2 separate regions of the Homo sapiens genome follow, and region 1 is linked to region 2. A link means that fine-mapping ties the variant in region 2 to the expression of a gene that starts in the linked region. Tissue or cell type: esophagus mucosa. Region 2 holds a variant in brackets; the other region holds the start of a gene. All regions are shown on one strand. Distances are from middle to middle.

What was found.
Region 1: NALF2 starts here. The variant in region 2 is fine-mapped to the expression of NALF2 in esophagus mucosa (GTEx, PIP above 0.99). The same link has a PIP of 0.9 or more in esophagus muscle.

The regions. Positions count from the first base shown.
Region 1 is chrX:69,502,810-69,505,720 of GRCh38, forward strand. NALF2 (NALCN channel auxiliary factor 2) reads left to right here and starts at 1,517. Exons shown (of 3, transcript NM_015686.3): 1 at 1,517-2,911. The coding sequence starts at 2,474. RefSeq lists a silencer at 2,470-2,643.
Region 2 is chrX:69,443,824-69,446,734 of GRCh38, forward strand. No RefSeq gene overlaps it. Among named protein-coding and RNA genes, the nearest start is that of NALF2, 59 kb to the right of the region's middle. The variant C/T (reference allele first, on the strand shown) is at 1,629.

The DNA.
Region 1 (2,911 bases), 59 kb after region 2:
GCTCCCTACCCCTGAAACTTTTCATCTGCATTCCTTTTATTTGGAATGCCCTTCTCAACCACCCACCCTAATCCTGCTACTTTAGAAACTAGCTCCATTTGTCCCTCTTCCAGAAACCTTTTATGTACCCACCCCAGTCCACCTCTGAGTAGTGCTAACGATGCCCACCCATTTCATTTGATCCTTGGCATCCCTTCGTGTTACTCAGGGGAAAACCAAGACTCAGAAAAGGAAAAGACTCTCAAGGGTACACAGCATATCAGCAGTTGAGTTATTTATCCAAGGCTCTAGTTCATGAATCCTCCCACTAGCCAATATACATGTCTTGTTTCCTTATATAGACTATAATTTCCTTTAAGGAAGGAATGCCTTGGCTCTTTCATCTTTCCAGGGCCTTACTGGAGTGTTAAGAGAATTCTAGAGTCAGACTGAGTTTCTTTTTTAGCTGCTCTGGTTACTTTAGGCAACAACCACACTAAACCTCAGCTTCTTTGTATGTAAATGAAGATAACAGTAGTACCTATCTCATAACACTGTTGTGAAGATTGGATGACGAATGCATGCAAAATGTATAGAGCAGTACCTAGCACATAGTACGCGCTCAATTAAGGCTATTTTCTTTATTGTTATTCTTAACATTAACAAATGCTTGCCGGCAACGGTTGACAAAAAATTACAATGTGAGTTACTGGGAGTGAGGAAGGCAAGCAGACCACAGGGTCAGTGGAGTCCAAACAAGGTTAGTGGCGCGTCAGGATGTTTGTACGTCCGAATTCCTAGTGCCATGTGACTCTGTGAGGGCCCAAGCACATGGTTCCATCCGGGCGGCGCAGCTTCTCTAACTCTCAGTCAGCTATTCTCAGCAGCCTGTAGGGGGAGCCAAAAAGCTAGGACGGGGGCTGGTGCTTGGGTGGGGGGCGGGCGGGTGGGGGGTGGAGGCTGCTGGAAATATTCCTAAGGGCAAACACCGACACCCCACCACTACTATCTTAGCCCACCGCCTTGCCCCCTCCAGGACGCTCTCCAAACTCAGTCTTCCTCAGCAGCTAAGCTGGGAGCTGTCCTTCAGCACCAAGGGCCGCCTTGTCCTCGGGCAGGACGGTGAGGGCGAAGGTGGAGTTAGGGACACTGGACTGGTCCGATCCGCAGCCGGCTCGAGCGTCTTCCAGTCACGGGGACGGCGGAGGCGACCCAGAGAGGCAGCAAGCAGCTACGAGATGCCTGCTGCTCCTTGCCTCCAAGAATCACCCTCAGAAGTCCCCTAGCCCTCGGGGGAGTGAGGGACGGCCATGGAGAGGAAGGCGGGCGCCCGGGTTAGTGGGGGAGGGGGAGCGCCGAGGCCTGGGACTCAGCGTGTGGCATGTGCACGCGGGCAGCGGGCGGATGAACGGAGGCGCTGAAGTGAATGGAGTTGGGGGTGGACTGGAAACATCCCCAAACAGCACCGGCTGCGGCCGGCGGGGGCTGGGGCGGGGTGGGGTGGGGGGAGTCCTGAGGCGCAGGCGCAGTCGGGGCACCAGTCCCGCTCCCTCCTCCTCTCCGTGCCTCTTTCTCCGCCCTGCTCCCCGCCAAACACACTTGCACAGGGGCTCTCAAGGTGTTCTCCGCACAGCGGAAGATGGCGACAGACTGAGGGTGCATGGCCAGCGGGAGCCACGGGGCCGTGCCGCTGGGCTGCAGCCACAGCGGTGCGAACGAGAGGCGGAAGCGAGAGGCGCACTAAGTAAAGCCCGGTGTCTGCGTCCGGCGCCTGTGGCGCTGCCGGGAGCCAGGTGGCCCGCCCGAGCCGGAACTCCAGGAGCAGCGGGTGCGGAGCCAGAGCGGAGCCCGCCAGGGACTGGCCCCGGCGAACACCCGGAGCGCGAACGAAGCCCGAAGGGCCCGGCAACGGACCGGCCGGCCGGCCTAGGAGGGCGCGAGCGAGGCAGGGAGCGGCGTGGAGCGGGCAGCGGGCGGACGGGCGGGAGCGGAGCGGCGCGGGGCGAGGGGAGCGGAGCGGAGCGCGGCGGCGGGGCCCGCACGGCGGCGCTGAGGGGCGCAGAGCTGCGCCGAACCGAGACGGCCGGTTTGGAGTGCGAGCCGGGCGGCCGCCGGCGCGGAGTGAAGTGGCACGGAGCCGAGGGCAGCTGAGGGGCCCGACACTATGAGGAGTGCGGCGCCGCCGCCGCAGCCGCCACCGCCCCAGTGCCCCGCACCGCCCCCAGCCGGGACGCCGGGCAGCGCCTAGCGGGCCGGGCGGCGGCGCCCGGGCTGAGAGCGACGGAGCGCGGGAGCGGCGCGGAGACGGCACCAGAGCGCCCCGCGACTCCGGCCTGAGCGGGGCATCGCGCCGGCCGGCCTGCCTCACCATGCAGCCCCCGAGGTAGAGCCTGGACGGCGCCGAGGAGCGCAGAGCGGCGCGCAGCCCGCCCGCCCCAGACGGCCGTCTGGCCTCGCGCCTGCCTGTTCCCTCCAGCCCGGACCCCCCTGAAATATGTTCAGGGGCGCTTGGATGTGGCCCGGGAAAGACGCCGCCGCGCTGACTATCTGCTGCTGCTGCTGCTGCTGGGCTCCCAGGCCGAGCGACAAACCTTGCGCCGACTCCGAGCGGGCGCAGCGATGGCGACTGTCCCTGGCGTCCCTGCTCTTCTTCACCGTGCTGCTCGCTGACCATCTGTGGCTGTGCGCGGGGGCCCGGCCCCGGGCCAGGGAGCTGAGCAGCGCCATGCGGCCCCCATGGGGGGCCGGCCGGGAGCGGCAGCCGGTGCCTCCTCGCGCGGTGCTGCCGCTGCCGCCGCCGCCGCCCGGCGAGCCCAGCGCGCCCCCAGGCACCTGCGGCCCCAGATACAGCAACCTGACCAAAGCCGCCCCCGCCGCCGGCTCTCGGCCGGTCTGCGGCGGCGTCCCAGAGCCCACGGGGCTGGACGCAGCT
Region 2 (2,911 bases):
ACAGCAAAGATGGTGGACTACACCTCCCCCAAGGAGCTCCTTCTTAGGGAGGTGTAATGCCACTACTGGTAGCCAGCTGGAACTCCAATCCAGTAGGTCTTATCTTGTGAGGTGCCATGGAAGTGGGGCCTGCAGGCTGTTGCTGCTCAGCCCTCTGGATTCTGCCTCTTTCCTACTATTCTACTTTCCCACTTTGCTGAAGCTGCAGCTACTTTTGCCAGAAATCCCAAGTATCTAAGGCTCCAGGGTCTCTGTGCACGCCTGAGCTCTGCTGAAACTCCACATAGCTCTGACTGTCAGACTGAATGCTGAAGGCCCTGGTGGAGTGGGTTCACAAGATCTCCTGACCTGAGGTTTGCAAAGATCTGTGGGAGAAGCATGGTTTCCAGGGGTCACTCATTCACTCATTACTTCCCTGGGCATGGGAGGATCCTTTGGCTCTGTGTTGCTCCCAGGTGGGCTGTTGTCCTGTCTCACTTTTCTCCCTTCCCTGTGGGTCAAGTTGTTTCCTTGATTAATCCCAATGGGCATACCTGGATGTTTCAGTTGAGCATATTGTATTTACTCACCCTTTCTCTTCCTTTCCATGACAGCCATGCACACTAGCTGCTTCTAGTCAGCCATTTGGCCACTCCTTGTATTTTGGATATTAAGTTTTTATCAGTACCATCATAAAAACAGACCTATAGACCAATGGAACAGAATAGAGAGCACAGAATTAGACGCACACATCTATAGTTAACTGATCTTCAACCAAGGTACCAAGAATACACAACAGGGAAAGGACAGTGTCTTCAACAAATAGTGTTGGGAAAACTCAATACCTGCATGCAAAAGAATGAAATTAGACCCTTATCTTACACCTTACACAAAAATAAACTCAAAATGGGTTAAACATTTAAACATAAAATCTGATACTAAAACTCCTAAAAGAAAACATAGAGGAAAAGCTTTATGACATTGGTCATAATTAACGAATTTAAAGTAAAACTTTAATTAAATTAACTCTAATTAAAGTAAACTAACTCTAACTAAAGTAAAAATTTGGCAAAACGAAAAAACAATTTTTAACTTTAAGATACCAATGACCTCTCATTACTTATTTTTCCATATCCAAACCTGGGCCTCAGTTCTTTTTCTATTTTCCGAAAGTTAATTTGTATTGAAGTATAACATATAAATAGAAAAGTGTATATATCTTAAGTGTCTAGCTTGATAACTTTTCTTTTCTTTTCTTTTCTTTTCTTTTCTTTTCTTTTTTATGGAGTCTCGCTCTGTCACCCAGGCTGGAGCGCAGTGGCAAGATCTCGGCTCACTGCAACCTCCAACTCCCTGGTTCAAGCAATTCTCCTGCCTCAGCCTTCTGAGTAGCTGGGATTACAGGTGCATGGCACCACACCTAGCTAATTTTTTTGTATTTTTAGTAGAGACAGGGTTTCACCATGTTAGCTAGACTGGTCTCAAACTCCTGACCTCAGACAATCTGCCCACCTCAGCTTCCCAAAGTGTTGGGATTACAGACGTGAGCCACCTTGCCTGGCCAATAAATTTTCTTTAAGTGAACAAATCCATGTAACCAACACCCAGATCAAGAAACAGAGCATTACCCCAGAAGCCTCACTTTACAT[C/T]CTGTTCTGTCACTATCTCCCAAAGGTAACTCTATTCTAACTTCTAACATTGTAGGTCAATTTTATCTGTTTTGGAACTTTATAGAATGGACTTATATAGTATGTACTTTTTTATCTGGCCTCTTTTGCTCAATACTTCGCTTGTAAAATTCACCCGTGTTTTGGATGGAGGTGTAATTTGTTCATTCTCATTGCTGTATAGTATTCCAGTGTATGAACACATCACAATTTATTTATCCATTATACTGGTGATGAATGTTTGGAATGTTCCAGTTTGGAGCTATTACAAATAATGCTGATAATAATGATGCATTGTCTTATACATGTCTTTTGATGGAGAAATATTTGTATTTCTGTTAGGCATATACTAGAAGTGGAATCGCTGAGAGATAAGATATGTGTATATTAAGCTTCATTAGATACTTCCAGTTTTCCAAATTTGTTGTAAAAATTTACCCTCCCACCAGCAGTGTATAAGACTGCTTACATTTAATACAATTAATTTTTTATTATTTCACATTTTTCCATTCCGGTAGGTATAAAGAAATTTCACACTGTGGTTTTAATTCACATTTCCCTGATGACTAATGAAGTTAAATACTTTTTCATATGTTTACTAGTCATTCCAGTATCTTTGTTTTTTTGGGGGGGTTATTTTTGTTTTTCTTTGTGATTTACAAGTGTTTCTTATATAGTCTAGATACAATCTTCTGTTGGATCTATACATTGCAAATACCTTTACCTGCTTTGTGACTTCTCTTTTCACTTGTTAATGGTACCTTTTGATAAACAGAAGTTCTTAGTTTCAATACAATCCAATTTAACAATGTTTTCTTAAATGGTTAGTACTTTTATGTCCTGATCATGAAATCTCTGCTTATCTTAAGGTCATGAAGATATTCTCTATTTTTTTCCCTAAAAGCTCTATTGTTTTGCTTTTCACATTTAGATCTCTGATCATGCAGCTTTTGATTTAACAGACATATGGGTGTAGCAGAAAAAGGCTCTGGGCCCTTGTAAGAAGTAAGAGTAAGAATTAAAACCATCACACACACTAATGAAGGCCCCCAATGAACCAAACCTTAGTAAAGTATAGACTAGAAAAAAATCCCACTTCATAATCATATGAGAAAACAAGCACTTAGCTGTTTTGACTTTAGCATTATTGTATATGTATCAGTGAAGTCTCTTTTAAGGATTCGTACCACAAAGAGTTAAGGCTAAAATTTATATGACTTGTATGTCCAGGAAATTGCAACTAAATATTAACAAAAGTATTCCCA